Homo sapiens: one gene and its partners. The protein of the gene in region 2 purifies or fractionates together with the protein of the main gene of each other region. This does not show direct contact. Each region holds a gene or a part of one and is shown on either strand. Other genes may lie near its edges.

Region 1 (3,500 bases), on a different chromosome or scaffold from region 2:
TTATACATCTCTCTTTTTAATCAGGGATTATCATTCACAAGTTAACTTTTTCTTGATGACTTAAGACTTATAATTATTATACATATGAAACTTTTGTTATGGCTCCCTATAAGTAGAATGTTGCTTGCAAAGATTCTCCCCTACAGTGTATGATCCCAGAGACAGACACAACCTGTGTTATTGGGTTGAGATATCTATACTATTGGGCTATCAATGATCACTTTTCTCTAAAGTATATAAATTCCTGTTGAAGCCCTCTCCCTAGCCCCTTCTAATTTAGATGGAAGAAATAATAACTGATAAACATATTTCTTTCTAGTCATGTCTTAGAAACCATATAATCGACCCTGTTATACCTGTACCAAATGCAAAAGTAAGCAGACAATAAATTCTGAGAACTAATTCTGTATGGTTCTGTATGGTTACCAGGCTACAGCACATCTTGGAAATATAGTTGGCGTACAAAGTTAAAAACCAGGTTTAGCATTTTTTCCTGCAATAATTTTTTTATTTGGAAGAATTTTAAAAATGGGTTTTATTTTAAAACAAATGGTTTTATGGTTATATTATGGCCTCACATGCCCCTCCCAAGAACTTTTAAGAGAAAGTGTAAGATTTCCAAAATACATCATGTTCATAATAAGCTGCCCTGGGCTATGCCCTTAAACTTGAATATTTTAGTGGAAACATTTAAGAACTAGCTTAACTAGTCAAAATATAAAAGCTTTGTGTCACCAATATTTGCTACTGAATTCTCTTTATTTCTTGTTTATTCTCAGCTACCTTTCAGATAGGACATCAGATTACAGACAGTTTCTGACTATCTCAGTTACAGCTGAGATTATATTACTTTGACAATAACTTCATATTTTGTGTTCTGGCATAATTTAACTAAGATAGCAATAAATTTGGCTGTGTGAGAATCTTCCATGGCAATCAAGCCAAAGCAGAGTCATAGTTCCCATTAACTTGGAGGAGAGGAGTGGAAGGCAGTGAGGGGCAGCAAGTCTAATTTCCTCATCCCTATCCTCATGAAACAGCAGTTCCTAATTCATGAGGGCCCTGTGTAGTCCAAGAGATACTGCATGTGCAGCGCTTCCCTGCCATGGATCCAGCGCTATGCTAATGGTGAGCTATGACTGTCATCACAACCACTTTTAAATGCCATCTATGAGCCAGGTACGCTACCAGGATTAGGAGACAGCCTCTGTAAGGTGCCTGAAAGGAGCTATCACTCACACCTTACCAATAAGGCTCTGAGAGATAAGTAATTTGCCCACTGACACACAGCCTATTGCAGAACAGCATTTCTGCAATGCCGAACAGGAACCTGGGTCTCTCTAACTCCAAAGTCCATCCCTTTTTATAACATTCTACTCACCACGCATGCTGTTCAACAAGAAAAGTGACACTTCAGCCAAGAAAAGAGAACATTTCATGAGATTAAAAAGGCAAATAGCAGGCAGGGCACAGTGGCTCACGCCTGTAATCCCTGCACTTTGGGAGGCCGAGGCAGGCAGATCACCTGAGGTCAGGAGTTCAAGACCAGCCTGACCAACATGGTGAAACCCCATCTCTACTGAAAATACAAAATTAGCCAGGCGTGGTGGTGCATGTCTGTAATCCCAGCTACTCGGGAGGCTGAGGCAGGAAAATGGCTTGAACCCGGGAGGCAAAGGTTGCAGTGAGCTGAGATTGCACCATTACACCCAGCCTGGGCAACAAGAGTGAAACTCCATCTCAAAAAAAAAAAGGCAAAGTGTTGTCAAAAGTAGATAGTTGAAGGATAAGGGGAAGAAATAACAGCCACTATATCCTGCTGACTCGAGAGAGAAATAAGCTAACAGAGACAGAGACAGAATGTAGAGACAAGGATGTGTCAAGCGAAAACAAGGGAAGAGAGAGACTAATTTAAATGTCAATTCTTTTGAGTATCAGGCCAGGAAACTCATTTATTCCGGCAAGCCTGGCAGAAGACAAACTAGAAAGTCTAAGCAGAACAACAGTCTTTGAAATATTCTTTCCGCTAATTACATTTTCAGAGATACTCTGTTGTGATTCCTAACATCTCAAAAGGGTTTTAGAAGGGTACCTAAACACAATCAGACAATGAACCACGTCTATGGATAGGCTTTAGGGGTCTCTGAAACCCTAAAACTACATGCAAATTTTTATATGCACATTTTTCTAGGAAAAGGCTCTGTCATATACTGACTAAAGCCTGTAATTCTAAAGAAATTTAAAATCATTCCCCTAGTATTTTCTCAACTTACAGAATTTTAAAAGGCTTTCAAAAAGCAGCCTTCCCAAATCCTGCTGGGATGAGGATGTGGTGCCAGAGCGGTGATACAAAGTCACAGGCACTCGGAGGTAGGGTGAAGGGAAGGGGAAGTGGTTCTCTAAACTGATAAATGAAATTCAGGTCAGTATGGTCTGAGTATGAAGATTATCCTTCCCATAGTACCTTCTAGTCCCAAATACATGCAGAATTGTTTTTTTTAATCTGTTTTTTCATGGATGTTTTCTAGAAGTCCTTAATCTGAAGGAATACATATAAAAGCCAACATGTAGTAAGCACACAAATTAACAGTACTAGTGATCAATATTATCACTATCAGCAACACTTCCAGAAATGTTCAGAGAACCCACTCCACAAGTCACTACTAGAGAGCTCTATTAATCGAGTGGAGTTCATACTGAAACCTGGACAAAGAAAAGCTGGCAGGTAAACTGAAGAAGGAATTTTAAGAGAATCCTGTTAAACAGACAACTCTACATGAAATTAACACTGGATCAAAATAAAGGAAATGCAGGAAAATCAAATCTATCAAGAGCCATTCCCTGTACTGGGCCCACAGATCCCTTTTGTTTGATATTTAAAACCTGGAAGAAACATCCATCAGCAGCAGGACAGGAAAAGCAGAATGGTATTAGAAGTAAAACAGCCAATATGTCTGCACAGGCCAGAGTTCTCAGCAGCATTGACCATTGGTTGACTGTTTTGCTATTTTTGCCAAGAGTGAAATGTAATTAGATAAAATAGTCTGAACCAGTCATGTAATAAAGTTGGGGAAAATACTCAGATACATCAAGATTCCTATCAACCCCTTGTAGCTTCAACCCTTGTCCTATAAATCTGAATGTAATCATTAATTCACTAAATTGAGAAAAATGCATTTTAACTTCTTTTACTTTCTATACCTCATCTATGGTATAAGCAGTAATAAAAACCACAAAATCATGAAGAGACAGCTGACAGGAAGAAAATTTAAAAAAAGCCACAGGCATAAGTGATTTCCCTAAGAGTACTATATTGATCAGGTTGTTTTTAGCTTAAGAGTACTATATTGATCAGGCTGTTTCCAGCTTTGAGCTTCTAGGTATTATATTTTTTAAAGTAATAAAAATGCAATTTAGGAAGTACGCATCAAAAGTAGCTACAGGTTTGAAAACATAAGAAGTGGGATTTTTTTGGAGGGCTGAATTATTTGGAGAATTAA
Region 2 (3,500 bases):
GGAGAGCCCTAGAGAGGAGGCTCATTGCCCCTCTTGCTTCAGAGCCCAAGTGGTCTAGGACTCTTTCAGTGCTCATAGGGAGGACGAGACACACTCACGCTGACCAGGGCCACTGGGAAGAACTGCGGCTCTCCTCCCTGCTTCCCTCCCATCTGTCCTCTTCTCAGCCTCGAGGCCACTCAGAGTTCTGGCTCCCTCCGGGCCACTGCCCCATTTCACTGCGAGGCAAATCAAGGCCAGGAAAAGGCAAGGTTCTGCCCTCGGCCAAAGCCTGGACCCCTGACTGCTGGGCCCAAGAGCTCCAGCTACGGAGAGGTAGCTTCGGTACAGAACACGAGAACCCAAGGTTGGTACTGCTGCCAGTTCCCCACGTGGCCCAGCCCCACCCACAGGCTCTCCTGGGCCCAGGAATGTCCTGCAGGAGGGAGGAGTCGGTTTCCAATGCCAGCCGCCCTAACAACCCAGGAACTCAGCTCAACTGGTTACAGACCTCGAATTTTCAGCCCATGTTACTTGAAGGAGAAGCAGTTCTTGGGCTTTACCACCTGCCACCTGGGCCAGAGTTCTCTTATCCTTATCCTAAGAGTCTTTAAGACTCAAAGAAGAAAAGGTCTTGTCTGATGTATAATCTTAAAATAAACCCACACTTAGCCACCTCAAATCCTTTCTGAAATTATGTAAGATGAAAACTTAAATGCCTTATAGATACCAAGTATCTCCTCACAATATTGAATTCCATGAAACCACTTATCTTTGCATGCAATGAAGCATCCACAAAACCATTTCAGCTGAAGGATGTAGCAAAGAACAGGAAAGGCCTCCGCCGTCCAGTGCTTGCTCACCTGCACACTCAGGTACTTCCAGCAGTGAATCCAGGATTTGAACACTGGGGAGTAAGGGGGGAGCCCAGCTTGCAGCCTGCCGGAGAAGGAGAGTGTAGATGCAGAGAACAGTGGAAGACAGCCAGCCACGGGAAAGCCACTTCAAGAAGGAATGCCTTCAGGCTACCACCCATCCACACCCTGACCCCTGACACCACAGTTTACCCCAGGGGGTGCTGGGAAATCCCAGCGGAAGCCAGGGTGCCTGGCAGGCCAAGCCTACACACAGAGCAGGTGGGAGGGGGCAGAGTGCTGGAAGGGCTCGGTGGGTCTCCCCCACCCCACAGCCTTGGTAGGTAGAGTGGCAAGTAGAGGGGCGCACACCTACCCGCAGTTGTTCACAGCCATGAGGTCGCCAACTAGCAGGAAGGGGTAGGTCAGCATGCTCACTGCAATCTGAAACCCAGAGAGGCCTGAGTGCCAGTGACCCACCCCGGCCCAGGGAGCAGGGACACACCACGCCAACACCCTGTACCAAGACCTGCCTCCAGCCATTACCAGGGTTGGCCTCCTAGGCCCCGCTTGGGTCCGCAAGGCAGTGGGAAGGAAGGACAGCTGGCACAACTTACCCCCATCACGAACTTGGTATAGCTCCGGATGGCCAGGGCCTGGCTGAACTGAGGAGACAGAAGGGAAGAGTGGTTTGCCACAGGCACCTCAGGATGCAGACTTCAGCAACACATGCCCTCACCCCACCCTCTGTGCTGAGCTCCTCACAAGCACGCTGCACATGCCTTTCCTGTCAGCCCTCACAGTCACTGCCCAGAGAAGGCCTGGGGGGCAGAAACGGGGTAAGTGGACTGAAGGGAGTCCCGAGAAGGAGACCCGGTAAGAGGGATCAGCTGCCGCTGCCTGTGCAACCCACCGGACTGTGAGCCTCAAGGGCTGAGCCCGTGTCTGCCTGATCAACATCCAGGGCTTGGCACGCAGTCAGTGCTAAGACAGACATGCACCCTGAAACCCAAAGACGAATCCTGGCCTGTGGGGTGAGGTGAGGGCAAGTCCAGGCTTATCGCCACCTCCACCTCAGCAAGCTTTTCCCCCTTCAGACCCCAACTCCTCAAATCCTGCTTTGCTGAAGCAAACAGCTCCTAGTGAGGAAAGGTGACTCCCCCACCCTCAGCTTCCTGTGGAGCGGCCATCCCACCAGATCGATGGCCTGGGTTCTTGGTCAGAGATTTGCTCAGATGTCTGCTTGAGTGGCTTTGACAGCCCGGCAGCCTCACCTCGGCCTTTAAGCCACATACAGAAAAGCACTCGAAAAACACTTTAGACAAATCTGTTGACTGCTGTTGTTGCTGATGTAAGCACGGCAGCCTCTGGTCAGACAGCTGCCCACCTAGATGAGAAACCACTTAGCGGTGCACTCCTGGCCACCCTTGCTCTGTATGTGACAGCAGCAGCTTACCCACCCACAAGGCCCCCCGAGAAGGGGCAGAACTGCAGGAATGTACCACTGTGATTGCAGATGGGGTGGGTCTCTATGGAGCCACTTTAATTTGCTTACATCGAAAGGCCAGTGAAGACTCACCTGCCCAGGTCAAGTGGCCAGTCTCCCTGCAAGCAGAGGCTCCCATCTGGGATGGGGCACTCCTCACCACACAGAACAGACATGTACCACACACACACACATGCTGAACATGACCCCCTTCCCACCCAGGTGATTCTGGCAGACACGTCCCCAGGCCCTCCTAGCCTCCTGGGAGGGAAAGCCACTTCAAGAAGGAATGCCATCCTTCTTGAAGGTGATCCCCACTGTGAGAATGTCTGGACACTGCAATTCCCAGCCATCGCTGCTCCCTACCTCTTATCTTGGTTCAGGCAGAACCAGTCAACCCCTCAGGTACCTGGATGGCCTTCCTCAACAAGTGCTGTGTAGAAGGACCAGGCCTTCCTATGCCTGACCCGACCTGCTGAAAGGTCTATGTATACTAGGCTGTGTAGACCACAGCTAACAAAATAGGAGGGTGTATCGGACTGTACACTTCCTAGCAGATCTGAAAAAACTCAGAGGAATGCACCCTTGGCCTGGCCAGGGATCTAATTCCAGCCCTGTCAGTTCCAGCTGAGTGACTCTGGAGAGCCCAGAGCCTCTCCAGAATTTGTGATCTCTGGGTCTCGATTTCTGTATTGGTAAACGAACATTATACCTGCCCTGTTCCCTTCACAACTAGGATGCCGTCAGATCAAAGGCCATAACGTTCACAAAAGGGTTTTAAAAAGCAAAAGACGTGACACAAAGGTCAAGAGGTGATCACTATTAGCTGGTCTATCTTCTGACTTCCTGAGCCCTAGTTGGGTCACTGCCTCGGAGCAGCCTTAGATAAGCTGGGGTCTGTTTCTAAGGCGCCCAGGGACAAGCATTCCATTAATTCCTCCCAGGTCTGGGTACTAATCTGGAATCTCGCCTCTTGAGGCCGTTCTCCCCTTAGACAAAGATGACTCCAGGGATAATGAGAGGTCCTCTCTCACCCTCCCGGCCTGATGCTGAGAATCCCAGAATCCTTGAGTTTGTCCCAGACCCTGGGCATCAGCAGCACACGGAAAGAAGGACAAGTCCTTGTTCCAACCAACCTGGGAACCTGGATTCTGGTCGTTTCCCAGCCCCCCTGGGGTGTC
Region 3 (4,031 bases), on a different chromosome or scaffold from region 2:
GCTAGCGAATGCAGATTCGGCCGCTTGCAAAACCAACGAGCAAGGTCGTGGTATGGTAGAAGGAGACTGACTTTATTATAAACCAAAGCTAGCAGTGGGGAAAAACGATCCAGGCTTTTGCTTTAATGGAGCTGCTTCACATTTCCAAGCAAAATGCGAGGCTTTAAGAAGTTTTGGCATGGAGGGTATGCAAGGGGTGAGGCAGTGCAGGTCTTCATGACGAGTTCTGATGACTTGTCTTGAGTTACTGCCCATCTGGTGAATGGGCTGGCATCATCTCGGGCTGGGCTGAGTTATAAATTAACTGTAGCCTTGAATCAATCTCCTGGTGGAGATTTCCACAGATGCCTATATTGTTTCAAGATTTAGTCTCTGGAACTTTTAAGCGAACATACAATTAGATATGCTAACAGTGTGTATGGGGGGTGCTGGGGTGTCGGGGGGTGCCTAGTGGTTAACTGAACAAAAATAAAGAAATAGAAGTATATAACAAGAATATAACTTCCAAGCTGGGTACTTGGTTACAATAGGTGCTTGGATTGTATTAGAGATACCTCAAAGTGAGCAAACAACCAGCCAGAACTGGTCCCTGGCCTTGTGGAAGTTTCTCTCTTCTGTCTCTCTCCTCTCTCCCTTCTCTCTCTCCTCTCTTTGTCCTCTCTCCTTTCTTTCTTGACTTCCTTACCAATGGGAAACCCTGTTTTTCTAGATTAGGGAAAAGAAGGCCCGTTTAGAAAGTAGGGAAGGAGACAAAGTCTTACTTCCTGAAGCAAGGTAGGACTCAATTTGTGACCTAGAATCTGAGACAGGGAAGTAGAGGCAGGAAAACGGGGGAAATGGGGGAATAACTCGCTTCCTTTCTGGGTCGAGAAGGGCTAGAAGTCAAGGTTCAGTGGAGCCTTAGAGAAAGTCCAGCTCTTCATTTTACAGGTGAGGAAACTGAGGGGCGGAGAGGCTATAGTGTGGTAACAAGGTGGACACCTAGTCAGCTGCAGAAGTGGGAATAAACTGTGGCCTTTGAATAACACTATGGGGCCTCCAGTGAGGCGCTCAATTTTAATTCGGGACGCCTGGGTGGCAGCCGGGTGCTAGGGGTGGCTAGTTGCCATGGGAACCGGCTCCTCCCACTTCCTGCGTGCGCACCCGTAGACCTGCGCTCCCAATAAAGTTGTTGTTGAAGCGCGGCGGCGGCACCACGTGGGCCGGACCGGGCCGGGGGCGGGGCCGAGCTGAGGGAGGACCTGCTGGCTGCAGTGAGGAGCGGAGGCGGGCGCGGGCGGCCGGCCATGATCGCGTCGTGCTTGTGTTACCTGCTGCTGCCGGCCACGCGCCTCTTCCGCGCCCTCTCAGGTACCGGCCAGGCGTACCGACAGACAGGAGCCCGGCCAGGGCTCGCCTCTGCGGGGCTCCGCGGGCCTGGGGCGGCGTGCGGTTGGCCGGGCCTCACGACTACCGTGCCCCGGGCAGTGCCGAGGTGTAGGGAGGCGGTCCTGAGCCCCTGCCCCGCGGGCCCCTCCTGACCCCACGAGGCCTGGACCTGGCCGACGTCCCTCGTGGGCGGCCCCTCCTCCCGCCTGTTGTCAGATGGCGTCCGGCCGCGGTTAAGGTGGAGAGGAGCTGTGGACGGGCAGGGCCCTTTCCTGGCCCTGGGGGTGCAGAGAAATTGTGGGGTCGGCCAAGTCAGCACCCCGGCGGGTCGGGAAGGGGTAGTAGCTCGGACCTAGGCGAGTGCCCAAATTCTCAGCGGGCGAGGCGGGTCGGCTCTGGGAGGTTTATGGCCGAAGTACTGGACGCACCGATCTTCCCCAGGTTAACTTCACACTCGCCTTTCACTGCCACCTGGCAGCTCTCGCTCACCGGTGTCTTTGGTTGAAAAACGGACGTTCAATCAGAGACACATTTAGATCTCAGCTTTGGAGCATTCCTGCCCCCACTCCCGGCGGTTTAGAGGGAGATGTGCTGGGGTGGGGGCAATGCCCAGTCGATACCTCAAAGAGGGGGTGTTTATTTCGTTATTGTTTCATAATTTGTCTGCATTCTCTATTTCTGGGCTTTGAAATTACGGAGGGTTTTATGCGACCATCAGTTTCTGAGATCCCATGGAACTCGCAGACTTTTTGCCTTTAATTTATGGGACAGGACCAAGAAGTACTTAGGAATGAGGGCTCCAATTGTATATTCTGTGGTTTTCCTTTGTGGAACTTTACACAATTGGTACGCAATGTGTGTGTCATTGATAATATATATTTCATATAGAAATATTTTAAATTTTACTGTGTATCTGCCATTAGAATGCAAACTTCAGGAGCGCAGGGCCACGTCCATTTTGTTCGCTGTATCTCTGGTGTTAACACATTGCTTGGTATACAGTAGGCACTCAGTGAATTCAGGAATGTCTTGTGTGTCCATACTTCTGAGGAATGTGGGAAACTCCACAGAAGTAATTGTTTCCAGAGAACTAAACATATTCTTTTAACTATGTTGCTGTTTTTCCTGGAGCTCTTCTAATGCCTTAGTGATACAGTATACTAGTCCAGAGGTTTCCAGACCAGTAGAGTTCTAGGGATCTCAGAGGAGGGCCCCCCCCGCCCCCCCACCTACACATTACAGTAGTCCCACTTATATTTACTTGGCATATTTGGTTTCCAGATAAGATTTTTAAAAAACAAAAGCATTCTGCTGCTGAAAATCCACCACCACCACCACCAAAAGACATCTACCAAAATTGAAAGCTAGTAACTTCGTGCATATGAACCAAAGAACCTCTGCCATCTGGTATACACAGAGGATATTTCAAGGGGCAGATAATCAGGAAGTCCTTGAGGCTAAAGCTCAACGACCCAGCCCATACATAGGTTTAGAGCAGGGTTTCTCAATCTCAGCACTGTTGACGTTTTGGACCGGATCATTTGGTGTGGGTCTGTCCTGTGAATTGTTGGAAGTTCAGCAGCGTCTCTGTCCTCTAACCACTAGATGCCAGTAGCAATGCTGCAGTTGTGACAACAACAGTGTCTCTGAACGTTGCTAAATGTCTTCCGAGGGCAAAATCACCGTGGTTAAAACCATTGTTTAGAAGGACATAAATATACATAGACCCCAAACAAGATATTTGAACCGTCTTTCAATATTTGAGCCACTTTTAAGGTTTCTTCCCTTTAAAAAAAAATTGCCAATAAAATGAGTCTAGTGATTGAGGGCCAGCATCGTGCATGTTACTCGTCCTGTGCTGTAAATAAATGGTTGAGTGTGTGAGTGTAGGAGTTGTTTGCTCTCACCAAAATACTGTGCTCAGAGTTTGGGGGCTCTAATTTTAGAGTTTTTCCCACTTTCTTTCTTGCCTGTTGGCTGTCATTGGTGGCTGCAGTATCAGAGAGATGTCAGCTGTCTCTTACTGTCGATTGTTGGCACCTTGTAATTTATAGCCTCTGATGTGTTGTGGAATGGGAAAGCAGATAATGAAGTTTGTGAAGATTTTATTACAATAAGTAGCTTTGAGAAAAGGCTTAAGGGCCCTTGCTAAGATGTAAATTGTATAGATTTTTGAGACTGTCTACTTTAGGACTTTTTCTTTTGGAATACATTAATAGATTAGGGAATTTATACAGCTAGAAAAGCTCAGAGATTATCTAGTTCAAACTTGTCTCTATTTTTTTAAATTTAAAATTTATTTTTTTCTTTTCTTTTCTTTTTTTTTTTGAGATGAGGTCTCACTTTGTCTCCCAGGCGGGAGTGCAGAAGGGCAGTCATAGCTCACTGCAGCGTCAACCTGGGCTCAAGCAATCCTCTCATTTCAGCCTCCCAAGTAGCTAGGACCATGGGCATGTGCCACCGTACTTGGCTAATTTTTAATTTTTTGTAGAGATGAAGTTTCGTTATGTTGCCCAGGCTGGTCTCTAACTCCTGGCCTCAAGTGATCCTGCTGCCTCTGTCTCTGCCTCCCAAAGTGCTGGGAGCCACCACGCCTGGCCTCTTGTCCCCATTTTACAGTCAAGAGTAACTTCATCTGACTAGGGGCATTGTTCAAGGTCAGT
Region 4 (3,500 bases), on a different chromosome or scaffold from region 2:
TTTACGCAATAGCATAATAAATGAATAAACTACCTTTTTTTTTTTTTTGAGACGGAGTCTTGCTCTGTTGCCCAGGCTGGAGTGCAGTGGCGTGATCTCAGCAGGTTCACTGCAACCTCCGCCTCCCGGGTTCAAATGATTCTTCTGCCTCAGCCTCCCAAGTAGCTGGGACCACAGGCGCCCACCACCACACCCGGCTACTTTTTTGTATTTTTAGTAGAGACGGATTTCACCGTGTTAGCCAGGATGGTCTCGATCTCCTGACCTCGTGATCTGCCCGCCTCGGCCTGCTAAAGTGCTGGGATTACAGGTGTGAGCCACCATGCCCAGCCTAAACTACCTATCTTTCTATTTAAAGAATAGATAGAAGAGCTTGAATGTAATATTTATTTGGTGAATTTACATGTGAGGTCATTTACAAAAGAAAGATACAGACAGATGCAGCTTTCAGTGCAGTTTCAAACATTTTCACAACAGGCAATAGTCCATGAGAATTTGGAATGACAGTATAGAATGGCACATGCTTCAGTTTCCTTTGTGTTTCTCTACCCAACCCCAAGATGAAAGAAGGGAGAAGAGTAGAAGAAAATGTCAGTGTTAATGTAAATACAGCCATGCAAATAAAAACTTTTTTAAAGTCAGAGGTCATTCAGAGATGTAGAACATTTCTGTATTTGGGGGTTATCAGAAGGTGCATAATTTAAAAACAAAATGCAGCGGTCTCAAACTTCCCATCATCCAAATCATCTTGAATTATATTAACTGCACCAACTAATTAGTGACCTCCTCAATATTTTCCAAAGATTGACTTTGAAAGGGAGTCATTTCTAATAGTTTCTAAAAAAGATAGCATTTGTAGACAAATCTTTTTGGTTTCAACAGAATTAAGCACCCTTAAGGGGTGTAAAAATGCTCCTTTACTCCCAACAGTGTAAACCATAATTATAATTCGTTCTTAAATAAACCTCTCCCCATCCTGAGTATTTCAAAACAAAAGACCCCTGAAGAACACAACCCTTCCCTCACCAGAAAAATCTAGCATATAAGCAAAAGGATGGTCTATAAAAGTGGAAAATGGAAATAAATCGTAAAGTGATTTCTAAGTAAGGAGGTGGAGTAAAGCTTAAACACTGTCAGTACCCCTAGTGAAGACCTGGACCTGGGTAGTTAGTCCTTAGAGATCAAGGTTAGCTCACTACAAAAAGCACTCTACATGTCCTCAGCATCTTCAAAAATAAGTGGCTCAAAATTCCTTAAGCACATGTAGCCATAGTTAAAGCACTAAACTTGTTATTTCAGGAAATACTATGCTCTGGCTCCAAGTCTTACATCCTTTTTGACCCTTTAGCCACATGTCCTTCACGAGAAATTTTAAGCTATTTTAATACTCCCATATATCACACTTACTCTACCTTTATTTGGGTTTTACATACAAGCAATCTGCACTTTGATTTTAAAAAAGTTCTAAAATTTTTTAAAGGATGGGGTCTTGCTATATTGCCCAGGCTGGAGTGCAGTGGCTATTCGCAGGTGCAATCATCATGGCACATTACAGCCTCGAGCTCCTGGTCTCAAGCCTCTTGCCTCAGCCTCCCTAGTAGCTGAGACTATAAATAGTATATACAGTGCCACTGTACCCTCTATCCTACATTTTTAAAAGCTCACCATTAAATAGTACTAATTATTATAGAAAATAGTCACAGACAATTATAAACACACTACTGTTTCATCTTACCTCTTTGTCTGGTCCACTCCCCCATCAATACTCAGTCTTCCAACACATATATCAATTAGAATATTTTGCATCTGCATAATTTACTGCAAGAAAATCTGCTGTTGTGGACTTTAAGAAGAATGTACACTATCCATTAGAGTGGAAAGGGGCCAAGAGGATTAATAAGTGCCACCAAGTTTCTAAAACTGCAGAATCAGAGGCATTGTGCATGCTGACAATGGTTTAAAGGGTCTCTCAATTTTACTTTAATCCCCCATTTAACCTTTGTTTCTTTCAAAAAATCAACTGAAAGCGGTTAACTGAATATAAATCTATTTTACAGCATTTACTACGTTAATTTAAAAATCAACATGCTGTAAAATACTTACATTATTCACACATATATAGACGGAATCATCCAGAACATAATCAACTGCCAACCCCCCTTAAAAAAAAAATCAACAAATCAGTTTTTATTTGCATGGCCAATTATCATTTGTACTCTTTGCAACTTTATTTAAAAATCCCTTTAACATGTTCTAATCTTTTGTTGCACAGGGAATAAAAGCTGCAAGACTGCAAACTTCCTTCAACAGCCACACCCACAACACCTAGACATGAAACAGATGTAACAAATAACAACACCACAAACAGAAATACTGATTTCCACCATTCAACACAGTTCATGACAGTGTCTTTAGGGTTCAGTTGAAGAGGGGGTAAACTTTTAAAAAGAGGGTCAGTCTGCTTTCCCCCTGTTTTATAATGTTGGTGGTTTTAATCCGTATTTCTTTGCAACTTCTGTCTGGGCATGGGCGGCATCGCAAAGTGAATACAGATGGGCCATCTCCATTTCCGATTTGGCCAGGTTAATAGCTTTGTTGAACATGTCAATGGCTTTCTCCATGTTTCCTCTAAAAGAACAAAATTTTTAAGTCTCAGATTCAACAAGCACTTCACAATATTCAATGAAGGTTGTAAGTGATGGTACATGAAGTCTGACCACTAAGTTTCTTCACAATATTCAATGAAGGTTGTAAGTGATGCTACATGAAGTCTGACCACTAAGTTTCTACTATGATTCTAGTAAAATGCTTCTTTTAAAATAAACAAGAGTACCTACCACATTGAAAGCACTCAATGAATGTCAACTACTATTACAAATACTATGTGCTTACATTATATCCCTTGTATTCTGTGTTTACTGATAAGAACAGTCAGACTAGGGAAATTGATTGGCTTATTTAAAATCACAATTCCGTCTGGTTCCTAAATTTTACATGTTTCTACTGTTAACATGAGACTCCTTTAGAAAGCAGTGACATAATACCGGGACACTAATGACATGCAAGGGCCTTACCTTCACAGACTGATGTGGGCCCACCTCTTTCTGTTTCATCTCTTACCAGCACATCCCCAACCCCATGCATCTCTACTCTTCAGGCAGTCTATGTGAGTTCCTCACACCTACTCAATAAATACTCAGATTTATTGCCTCTGCCTGATTCTGGTCAAATCCACAGCTATCTAAGAACCAACTGTTTTAAGTAACTAGTATTAGCTACATATATATGCAATCCTACAAAGAATATTAAGTCCCTACTATATATATATATACCTGCATATACAGAGTCTAACTGGCATACATGTTAGTAAGGTACATTTTATTGGCATATGTGCCAGTTAGACTTTATATGCCAGTAAGAGGTACCACTAGGGTGACTATATTTAATCCCCCATTATAATATATGGCAACGTGATAGGCTTATTTTTAAAAAAAACTTTT
Region 5 (3,500 bases), on a different chromosome or scaffold from region 2:
AAATGGGTGAGCATCAGGGAGAGGTGAAGGATGAGTCTCAGGTTGCTGGCCTGCAGAAGTAAATGGATACTGATTTCATTTCCTGAATAAGGGAACACTAGAAAAGGAAAAATTAAGTCTTCATGTATTTGTTGTATCCACTGTTTTCTCTGCCTAGAAGGCCTTTCAGCTGCTTGTAAACTCACTCTTTTTTTTTTTTTTTGCTTCTGAGACAGAGTCTTGCTCTGTCACCCAGGCTGGAGTGCACTGGCACGATCTCGGCTTACTGCAGCCTCCACCTCCTGGGTTCAAGTGATTCTCTTGCCTCACCCTCCTGAGTAGCTGGGATTACAGGCATGCACCACCATGCCTGGCTAATTTTTGTATTTTTAGTGGAGACAGGGCTTCACCATGTTGGCCTGGCTGATCTCAAACTCCTGGCCTCAAGTGATCTGCCCGCCTCGGCCTCCCAAAGTGCTGGGATTTCATTCCTTTTGTGTGTGTGTGTGACGGAGTCTCGCTCTGCCACCCAGGCTGGGATTACAGGCATGCGCTCCATGCCTGGCTAATTTTTGTATTTTTAGTAGAGACAGGTTTCACCATGTTGGTCAGGCTGGTCTTAAACTCCTGACCTCACGATCTGCCCGTCTCAGCCTCCCAAAGTGCTGGGATTACAGGCGTGAGCCACCATGCCGGACCGATATCTATATCTATATATTTTTTGAGCCAGAGTCTTGTTCTGTCACCCAGGCTGGAGTACAGTGGCGCGATCTTGACTCTCTGCCACCTCCACCTCCCAGGTTCAAGCAATTCTCATTCCTTGGCCTCCCGAGTAGTTGGGATTACAGGCGTGAGCCACTACACCTGGCTAATTTTTGTATTTTCAGTAGAGATGAGGTTTTGCCATGTTGGCTAGGTTGGTCTCGAACTCCTGACCTCAGGTGATCCGCCCGCCTCAGCCTCCCAAAGTGCTGGGATTACAGGCGTGAGCCACCATGCCTGACCAATATCTATATCTATATATTTTTTGAGACAGAGTCTCGTTCTGTCACCCAGGCTGGAGTACAGTGGCACGATCTTGGCTCACTGCCGCCTCCACCTCCCAGGTTCAAGCAATTCTCGTTCCTTGGCCTCCCGAGTAGTTGGGATTACAGGCGTGAGCCACTATACCCAGCTAATTTTTGTATTTTCAGTAGAGACAAGGTTTTTCCATGTTGGCTAGGTTGGTCTCAAACTCCTGACCTCAGGTGATCCGCCCGCCTCAGCCTCCCAAAGTGCTGGGATTACAGGCGTGAGCCACCATGCCTGGACCGATATTTATTTCTATATCTGTATCTACATATATATTATAAACTGTGAACTCACACTGACAGCTCCAATTCCAATCCCAGCATTTTATACCTCCCTTCTCTCACAGGGAAAAGCTGGCTCTGATTTTTCTCAGTATACTTATTTGTTCAGTCTTGTGTATACAGCCAATTCCCCAGCCCTACTGAGCTGCTGCTGTTGTACTACCCAAAGCTGTCCTTGCATGGGCCACCATTCCTGTCCTGCTAGGGGCCTGCCAATGACTTTTGGAGAGAAGGAAGAGAGGGAACAAGGGAAGGAGGACAGGAGGGAAGGAAGCAAGGAGCCAACAACAGCAAAAAAGGCTTCTTAGAAAACAATTTACAACTACTGCCCCAACGTACAAGGAGTGTGGTTTATGACTTCGTCAGAAAAAAAGATGTCCCACAACCATACAATTGGCTTTATTTAACAAGGACAATGAAACAGTAGTCTCAACTCATATAAAATTACATGCAAATAACTAAGAAAAATAAATATCACAAAAAATTTGAATTTACCCCTCTAGCAGCAAGTTCCATTTCAGTACTACCCCAGTGATCGGTCTGCTCTAAAAAATAGATCATTTCATCAAAAACATCTTCAAACTTCTTTGGATTCTGAAGAAGAAAACACATTTTAACCCTAAACTCAACTTTATAACAAGCTACAAAGAAAGTTACTCTTCAAATAAGTCTGGTAGATCTTAATTCTACTAGGTAACTGAACTAAAATACATTTTAAAGGTATGCCAAATTTATCTGGTTTACTACTTTGCTATTGCAACATTTTGCAGAAGCCAAGATAAAGAATGTCAGTAAAATGTCACAAGCAAACTATTTATTACTCAAATATGTATGCCTATTTTGGTCAGTAATTAAAATGAAAATTTGGTTATAGCAGACATTATGTGAGGCTTTTGTTGCAGTTCTGCTTCTTTTGGAGGAACCCTAGTTCAAATCACTGAGTTTATCTGTCATGAGAAGGCCAAGAAAGCAACACAAGACTTACATTGGGAATTGCATGTATTAATAGTATCACCTTACATATACTTAGCTTTACACTACTTAACACTTTATTCTTTAAGTTGCTTCCCATTTATCATTTATTTAATCATCCTAAAAACCCTCTGAAATGAGGTAATATAAATACAATTCTATTATATAAATGAAAGAATTAAAGTTCAAAGGGATTGAGTCTGAAAACTAGGTGTGCAAATGGCTCAAGGAAGGCTTGTTTTGTTTTATCATCATCTGGACAAACCTTGCATAAAGTAAGGTGGTTCCTTACAGTCTGAATGAAGTTCTTGTCATTGCTTCTGCCTCATTCAACTACATGAAGATGAGGCAGTTCAATTTGTATTCCAGATTTCTGAGACCTACGCTATTTCCTGTAACCCTCTTCCTGAACAGGATTGAGGTAATAAAAGAGGAGGCATTAGTAATAATAACAGTGATGGTTATAGCAGCAGATCTAATGATAATTCTCACCATGACATTTACAGAGTTTATGGCAAACTGGAAATAATTTATGAGAAACAACTTGGTTGAAATAGTGTGGACTTTATACATAGTTCAACCCGAGCATAACTTAATGCCCTTTTCAACTATCCACAAAAATTTTTCTTCTATCAAAAATTTAATGTCTTAATCTTCAGTTCAAAGGGTAAAAACAACTTTTGTAAATGGTAAAAATCTTGCCAACAGAACAAGTTTACCTTTCGTGCTTTCACAATTAAAGCTGATAAAATTTTCCTTCCGCTCTCAGCGAGGAATATCCTGTTAGCTGATTCTGAAAGAATTACCTGAAAAAATATTCATCCCCAAAGAAAAAAGAGACCTATAATGAATGTGAATGGACATTCAACTTAATAGCACAAATAATCCTAAAACAGTTAATGCATTGCATGTGGTGCTATTTCAACAGGCAGCTCACAGAGAAAGTCCTAATTTACTAAAATAAAAAGAACTCTTGAAACCTATAGTCAAAAAAAGATTAAAGGGAGTTAAATTTGAATTTAAATTCTGTTCAAAATCATATTACAGTCTCAAATAAATTTCCTATAGCCCCAAAACATAAGAAAACAAATATATTCTTGTTATTTTCTTTTTAGAAAATCAATTTTATAATTGACTGAAATTAAATCTCAAATACACACTAATTAATAAGAAAGAGTGTTTTTATTTTAAGCAGCC
Region 6 (3,500 bases), on a different chromosome or scaffold from region 2:
AGACAATTATCCAGGTCTGGCCAAATGATTTGGGTCTAAAAGTTGGTGACCCCAGAAAGAGCTTATTTGGCGGAAACAGTTCTGGGAGAGTGTCTGGCTGATGTATGGCAATCTCCAGTTTCAAAAACAAGAACATGAGCCTGGCTCAGAGACTCTCCCTCACTGCTTAGTCAACCCTGCTGCTTGTCTGGGGGTTCTGCTTTGGTTAGAAGCTTCTGCAGGTCTGTTAAATATGTCTCTGTGGCCCTGGGAGAAGTAAAATAGCTTTCAGGTCCTTTTGTTGTAGAACAAGATGAGGTTGGCCAAGTGAGTTTGAGTCTGAGACAAAGGTCTTGCAATGTTGCTGCCTCCAAGCGGAACCAGGCCAGCCTCTGCTCTGTTTAACTTGCCGCGGCATGCGGGGGTCCTACATCAGGAAACCTCCCAAACAGCCTTTCCTCTTCATGCACACATTCTGACATAGAGAACAAAGACACACAGAAGTCACATGTTAGATAAGAATCCCACTTATTTCCTAGAGAGCCCACTGTACTGGACTTGGTTTTCTTACTTTGTATTTCTATGGGATGAGCTGAAGAGTGAGGGGAAGCTGGCCAGGCCCAGTTGGTTAGGCTTTTACCTACAGCCTAGCATATAGGTTGGGGCTGTACCACACAAAAGACTGTGTTGCCAAAAAGAAAAAAATCTTCCACTCCTAGGGAAAATAAATTTCAATATCACAGTTTAGTTTCATTTTGTTTTGTTTCGTTTAGTTGTTTTGTTTCATTTCGTTTGAGACAGAGTCTCACTCTGTCAGCCAGGCTGGAGTGCAGTGGTACAGTCTAGCTCACTGCAACCTCCACCTCCTTGGTTCAAGTGATTCTCTTGCCTTAGCCTCCCGGGTAGCTGGGATTACAGGTGTGTACCACCACGCCCAGCTAATTTTTGTACTTTTAGTAGAGATGGGGTTTCGCTATGTTGGCTGGGCTGGTCTTGAACTCATGGCCTCAAGTGACCTGCCGCCTCAGCCTCCCAAAGTACTGGGATTATAGGCATGAGCCACTGTGCCTAGCCCAATATCACTATTTTAGAAAGAAGATAGAATCTGCAGACTAGCGGGTGAGGAAAATGCAGGCACTGATAAGTAAAAATTGTCTGAAAGCCAGAGGCTTTCCAAATGTGAGGAGGATAAAAAGCACAGCCCCTTCCAGAAGCAGGGGCGGCTCCTCCCAGGGAGACATTCCAAAATATGACCAGAGCCATCAGGGAAAGGCTGAGGAGACCTCAGGAGGACATCCAATATCCCAGCACAGGGAGCTCCGTCTCTGCCCTGTCCTGACCCTGACAGATAGTCTTACATCTGCAACCTCCTTATCCGTAAAGTCCTTTCCAGGTGCTGGCTAAACTGTCCCTTCCCCGCAACCACACCAGAAGACAATGGCTGGCAGCCTGTGCTCTGCTAACTGGCATTATGATGGTGTGGCAGTGTAAAGGCATTCCAGTAACTGTCTTGACTACCTGCTTCCAAAAAGCTGGTGACACTGGGTAGCAGCAAGTCCCCACCCCACTGAGGAGACCACCTTTTTCTTTCTTTCTTTTTTTTTTCTTTTTTTCTGAGACGGAGTCTCACTCTGTCACCCAGGCTGGAGTGCAGTGGCACGATCTCGGCTAACTGCAAGCTCCACCTCCTGGGTTCACACCATTCTCCTGCCTCAGCCTCCCATGTAGCTGGGACTACAGGCACCCGCCACCATGCCCGGCTAATTTTTTGTATTTTTTTTTTTTTTTTTTTAGTAGAGACAGGGTTTCACCGTGTTAGCCAGGATGGTCTCGATCTCCTGATCTCATGATCTGCCCACCTCGGCCTCCCAAAGTGTTGGGATTACAGGCGTGAGCCACCGTGCCCAGCCCACCATTTCCTAAGTGTATATATGCATATGTGTATTATTTATTCATTTATATATATTTATACTTAATTAATATCAAGAGAGAGGGAGACAGGGTCTCACTCTATCACCCAGGCTCTGGAGTACAGCGGCGTGATCTTAGCTCATGGCAGCCTTGAACTGCTGGGCTCAAGCGATCCTCCTGCCTCAGTCTCCTGAGTAGCTGGGACTACAGGCACACACCACCACGCCCAACTGATCTTTTTATTTTTTGTAGAGATGGGGTCCCACTGTGGTCTGGACCTCCTGGCTGGTCTGGAACTCCTGGCTCAATTAATCCTCCCTCCTTGGCCTCCCAAAGTGCTGAGATTACAGATGTGAGCCATCCTGCCTGGTCAAAGATGTCTTTAGATCCCACAGTTCTCTGGCTCACTCATCCTGGGGCTGGGTTCTGTAAATCTGAGGATGTCTGCCCAGAGAATGGGGCTACAGTGAAATAGGCAGGCATCCACTGACTTAGATGCCTCACAGGGCTGGGCCCTATTCCCTATTTCCAGCCTTGTCCCTTGGTGCACATTTCTTTGGTTAGCCTCACTAAAGCCTTCACCCTTAACTTCCAACATGCCCCTTCCCCAGACAAGACTCCCTTTGAGATCTGCACACAACCAGAGCCATGTCCAAACAGGAGTGGCAAACCTGTTTGCACATTATTTCTGACATTATTTCTCCATGGGCTGAATCTTCTCATCTCCCATTCATCCCTTATTAATGTCGCCCTTCACCGTGGCTCACAGCCTGGCCTGTGGCTCCAGACTGTTGTATAATAATACAGGTGTTAACTGCTGAGGTTAACAGTGGGAAGTTGTCACTAGAGGTTTCCCACTCATCACTGTCACTGAAAAACTGGCAACTTACAGGGAGTCCAATTTTGGAACAGGACAAATACAGCAATCACAGGTTAAAAGGTTACCATTTGTAACATACCCCAACCATCTCATTTCCCTGTCAACCTGGGCAATATTATTTTTCACCTCTTGTGCACAAAATGATGCCCAGTGAATGAATAACTAGTTCTATTCTGCCAGATCTGAAAGAAGAGATAAGTCTGGAGCATAGATTTCATCATAACCAAGTTACCCCAACCTAGTCTGCAACACTAAAAGCCAGCACCTTGAATTCACAGGTAAAACATGAGTATGTGGTAGAGGGATCAGTGTAGAAGCCTGGAGCCCCGATTCCCCAAAAGAGCTATAGAGCCCCGAACAACCAACAGCAACGGGTAAGTGGAGCCCAAAACAACAGAAAAAAATATCATTTCTCAATTACAAACTGGCCTGGGGAGCAGGAAGGACTGAAAAGTGAGGGAAAGCAGGAACTCTACTACTGAGTGTGGGAGGAGAAAAACAGCAGGAATTGGGCAGGGAATAACACCCTGGACAATAATAAACTTAAGGGATTCCTTTCTCCAACAGTTCATCATTTGTGCAGAAGAAATAAAGGACTGGCTTCAGTAAGGGTTTAGAGAGATAAAACTGATCAACTCACATATGGCTGCTAAGGAGAGCAGAGATTTCCAAGGTCAGGGAGGACAAGCACGCCCTCCCAGCAACTGCACCAGGCACCGAATGCCAGCAT
Region 7 (3,500 bases), on a different chromosome or scaffold from region 2:
CGGGCGGATCACGAGGTCAGGAGATTGAGACCATCCTGGCTAACACGGTGAAACCCCGTCTCTACTAAAAATACAAAAATATTAGCCAGGCATGGCGCCTATAATCCCAGCTACTCGGGGGGCTGAGGCAGGAGACTAGCTTGAACCCAGGAGGTGGAGCTTGCAGTGAGCCGAGATCATGCCACCGCACTCCAGCCTGGGCGACAGAGCGAGACTCCGTCTCAAAAAAAAAAAAAAAAAAAAAAAAGTGAAGGAGGTAGAGCTACATGTACTAAAATGGACGCTTCTCTAATGTATTATATTTGGCCATGTAAATCACCAACAGAACAAAACAATATACAGGCCAGGTGTGGTGGTTCATGCCTGTAATCCCAGCACTACGGGAGGCTGAGGCGGGTGGATCACCTGAGCCCAGGAGTTCAAGACCAGCCTAGGCAACAGTGTGAAACCCCATCTCTACTAAAAATACAAAAATTAGCCAGGTGTGGCAGCACGCACCTGTAGTCCCAGCTACTTGGGAAGCTGGGGTGGGAGGATAGCTTGAGCACAGGAGGCTGAGGTGCAGTGAGCCGAGACTGCACCACTGCACTTCAGCTTGGGTGAGACCCTGTCTCCAAAAAACAAAACAAAAACAAAACAGAAAACAAAAAAACCTACAATATATAATTTCTATGGATGCATAGAAATGTATTCAAATGCACAGAAAAGGGTCTGGAAGGATTCACCTATAGCTTCCTTTTGGGAAAGGTGGAGGGGAGCAGGGTTGAGTATTGATAAAGGGGACTTTGGCCTTCTCTGTAATGCTTTAATCTTTTACAAAGAGAACTGATTCATGCATTACTTGTATAATTAAAAAATTATTTATAGGCCAGGCATGGTGGCTCATGTCCGCAATCCCAGCACTCTGGGAGGCCAAGGCAGGCAGATTGCTTGAGCTTAGGAGTTCGAGACCAGCCTGGGCAACAAGTCAAAACCCTGTCTCTACTCAAAATACAAAAAATTAGCCAGGCCTGGTGGCATGTGCCTGTAGTCCCAGCTACCTGGGAAATGGAAATGGAGGATTGTTTTGGGCCTGGGAGGCAGATGCTGCAGTGAGCTGAGGTTGTGCCACTGCACTCCAGCCTGGGCGACAGACAGAAGAACCCTGTCTAAAAAAAAAAAAAAATTTTTTTTTTTTTTTTTAAACCAAAGTTAGAGACATTGGAAAGCAGAAGCAGAGAAATGAGCAGACATCCTGGGACAGCAGCCCAAGGATGGCTCTGGCTCCCAGCACTGGGTCCCATGTGAAGGATAAGGGCAGTGCTGAGGTCAGGGTTAGGATAACTCATGTGGACATTTCAGCTTTCACAAAATCTTTGGAGTGGTGTTTTTAACCCATTTCCCATTTGCCCCAAGAATACTCCTGTCTTTAATCCTAATGTAACATCATATACATTTCTGTTACATTAGGATTAGAGACAAGTTCTATTTAGAAATAACTCCCATGAACATGGCTGGGTGCAGTGGCTCACCTCTGTAATCCCAGCACTTTGGGAGACCAAGATGGGAGGATCACTTGAGGTCAGGAATTTGAGACCAGCCTGGTCAACATAGCAAGACCCCATCTCTATTTTTTTAAAAAAATTAAAAAGGCCAAGCATGGTAGCTCACGCCTGTAATCCCAACACTTTGGGAGGCCAAGGCAGGTGCACCACTTGAGGTCAGGAGTTCGAGAGCAGCCTGGTGAAACCCTGTCTCTACTAAAAATACAAAAACTAGCCAGGCGTGGTGGGGCATGCCTGTAATCCCAGCTACTCGGGAGGCTGAGGCAGGAGAATTGCTTGAACCTGGGAGGCAGAGGTTGCAGTGAGCCGAGATCCCGCCACTGCATTCCAGCCTGAGTGACAAGACGAGACTCATCTCAAAAAAAAAGGAAAGAACTCCAAGAACAGTTTTTCTATTTTCGCATTTAAAATCAGTCAGATTTGCTTCGGCCTCAAAGAGCATGTTTACGTAAAATTAGATGAACGCTGGCAGCGAGTTGCACATTTTTTTTTTCTAAACCAGGAATGGGCTAAAAAAACAGGATAGTAAAAGAAATTATTCCCAAGTCACCTCTTCCACAGAAAAGTACACTTGCTTCATAAAGATTTCTGTGTCAAGCAGAGCTCACATGGGAAAATACCTCAGTGAAGCACGATTTAGCTGAATGTTTTTTAAATCCAATTTTCTCCTTACAGTGAGAGCAATATATGCTTATTGTTAAAAGTTGAAGTATAGTTTTTTTCCAAAAATGATTTTAAAATTACCAATGACTGCACAATACCAAAATGGCCACTGCTAACATTTCAGCATTTTTCAGTCCAGTCTTTATCTGTGGAAGTTCCTACCTTGATGAAGTCAAATTATATTTTGTACGCTGCTCTTTAAATTTAATATTACAGCCTATGCCCTCACCCAAATTAAAAAAAAATTTCATAAAAGTGATTCTTAATGGCTGTATGCCATCGATTACTTTATCATTTTCCCATCTAAGTGCTAGCCAACCACTACCCGGCTTAGCTTCCGAGGTCTGATGAGATCAGGTAAGTTCAGGGTAGTATGGCCACAGGTGATTGCTTAATGATTCTGTTTGATATCTACATTCTTTCCTTTTGCCATTATAATTAGGTGTTGGAGATCTTTGTGCATACATTGCACTCTGTATAATACCCATGGAATGTCAGCAGATTTTATGAAGAAAAAAAACAGTTCTACAGTCAAAAAGTTGGTTTAAAAATGAAGTTGGGCTAGGTGCAGTGGCTCACGCCTGTAATCCCAGCACTTTGAGCTGAGGCAGGCAGATCAGTTGAGGTCAGGAGTTCGAGACATGTCTGGCTAACATGGCGAACACTGTCTCTACTAAAAATACAAACATTAGCCGGGCGTGGTGGCATGCAGCTGTAATCCCAGATACTAGGGAGGCTGAAGCAGAAGAATCGCTTGAACCCGGGAGGCGGAGGTTGCAGTGAGCTGAGATCGTGCTACTGCACTCCAGCCTGGGCAACAGAACAAGACTCTGTCTCAAAAATAAAATAAAATAAAAATAAAAATGAAGTTGGGGCCAGGCGTAGTGGCTCATGCCTGTAATTCCAGCACTTTGGGAGGCTGAGGCAGGCATACCACTTGAGGCCAGGAGTTTGAGACTAGCCTGGCCAACATAGTAAGACCCTGTCTCAACTAAAAATGCAAAAAATTAGCTGGGTGTGGTGGCACAGACCTGTCATCCCAGCTACTCAGGAGGCTGAGGCACAAGAATCACTTGAACCTGAGAGGTGAAGGTTGCAGTGAGCTGAGATTGTACCACTGCACTCCAGGCTGGGAAAAAAAGGTGAGACTCTGTCTCAAAAAACAAAAACAAAAAAAAGTTGGGTAGGTTATTTCTTAAAACCTTTACCAAGCCAGTGTATATTGTGACTCTCCAAGTTGGGGGCTACCATTCAGCCATTCCTAAACTTGTTTGCTTTTAGACTCCATTTTTC

The links.
Region 1: the proteins of MTCH1 (region 2) and AGPAT5 purify together in Homo sapiens (affinity purification with mass spectrometry; one large-scale study listed by BioGRID and IntAct). This does not show direct contact.
Region 3: the proteins of MTCH1 (region 2) and ANGEL1 purify together in Homo sapiens (affinity purification with mass spectrometry; one large-scale study listed by BioGRID and IntAct). This does not show direct contact.
Region 4: the proteins of MTCH1 (region 2) and TOMM70 purify together in Homo sapiens (affinity purification with mass spectrometry; one large-scale study listed by BioGRID and IntAct). This does not show direct contact.
Region 5: the proteins of MTCH1 (region 2) and MIGA1 purify together in Homo sapiens (affinity purification with mass spectrometry; one large-scale study listed by BioGRID and IntAct). This does not show direct contact.
Region 6: the proteins of MTCH1 (region 2) and MTARC2 purify together in Homo sapiens (affinity purification with mass spectrometry; one large-scale study listed by BioGRID and IntAct). This does not show direct contact.
Region 7: the proteins of MTCH1 (region 2) and USP30 purify together in Homo sapiens (affinity purification with mass spectrometry; one large-scale study listed by BioGRID and IntAct). This does not show direct contact.

The regions. Positions count from the first base shown.
Region 1 is NC_000008.11:6,725,642-6,729,141, reverse strand, and holds part of AGPAT5 (1-acyl-sn-glycerol-3-phosphate acyltransferase epsilon), read right to left. Parts: intron 1-3,500. UniProt on the Homo sapiens protein: Converts 1-acyl-sn-glycerol-3-phosphate (lysophosphatidic acid or LPA) into 1,2-diacyl-sn-glycerol-3-phosphate (phosphatidic acid or PA) by incorporating an acyl moiety at the sn-2 position of the glycerol backbone.
Region 2 is NC_000006.12:36,969,197-36,972,696, forward strand, and holds part of MTCH1 (mitochondrial carrier homolog 1), read right to left. Parts: coding exon 3,456-3,500; intron 1,499-3,455; coding exon 1,451-1,498; intron 1,278-1,450; coding exon 1,210-1,277; intron 919-1,209; coding exon 843-918; coding exon of another isoform or gene 657-842; exon of another isoform or gene 1-656.
Region 3 is NC_000014.9:76,810,083-76,814,113, reverse strand, and holds the start of ANGEL1 (protein angel homolog 1), read left to right. Parts: upstream 1-1,231; 5' UTR 1,232-1,286; coding exon 1,287-1,350; intron 1,351-4,031.
Region 4 is NC_000003.12:100,363,090-100,366,589, forward strand, and holds the end of TOMM70 (mitochondrial import receptor subunit TOM70), read right to left. Parts: intron 2,629-3,500; coding exon 2,475-2,628; 3' UTR 342-2,474; downstream 1-341. UniProt on the Homo sapiens protein: Acts as a receptor of the preprotein translocase complex of the outer mitochondrial membrane (TOM complex). Recognizes and mediates the translocation of mitochondrial preproteins from the cytosol into the mitochondria in a chaperone dependent manner.
Region 5 is NC_000001.11:77,859,649-77,863,148, reverse strand, and holds part of MIGA1 (mitoguardin 1), read right to left. Parts: intron 3,110-3,500; coding exon 3,023-3,109; intron 1,926-3,022; coding exon 1,827-1,925; intron 1-1,826. UniProt on the Homo sapiens protein: Regulator of mitochondrial fusion: acts by forming homo- and heterodimers at the mitochondrial outer membrane and facilitating the formation of PLD6/MitoPLD dimers. May act by regulating phospholipid metabolism via PLD6/MitoPLD.
Region 6 is NC_000001.11:220,751,322-220,754,821, reverse strand, and holds part of MTARC2 (mitochondrial amidoxime reducing component 2 isoform a precursor), read right to left. Parts: intron 3,493-3,500; exon of another isoform or gene 3,413-3,492; coding exon of another isoform or gene 3,411-3,412; intron 1-3,410. UniProt on the Homo sapiens protein: Catalyzes the reduction of N-oxygenated molecules, acting as a counterpart of cytochrome P450 and flavin-containing monooxygenases in metabolic cycles.
Region 7 is NC_000012.12:109,059,076-109,062,575, reverse strand, and holds part of USP30 (ubiquitin carboxyl-terminal hydrolase 30), read right to left. Parts: intron 1-3,500. UniProt on the Homo sapiens protein: Deubiquitinating enzyme tethered to the mitochondrial outer membrane that acts as a key inhibitor of mitophagy by counteracting the action of parkin (PRKN): hydrolyzes ubiquitin attached by parkin on target proteins, such as RHOT1/MIRO1 and TOMM20, thereby blocking parkin's ability to drive mitophagy.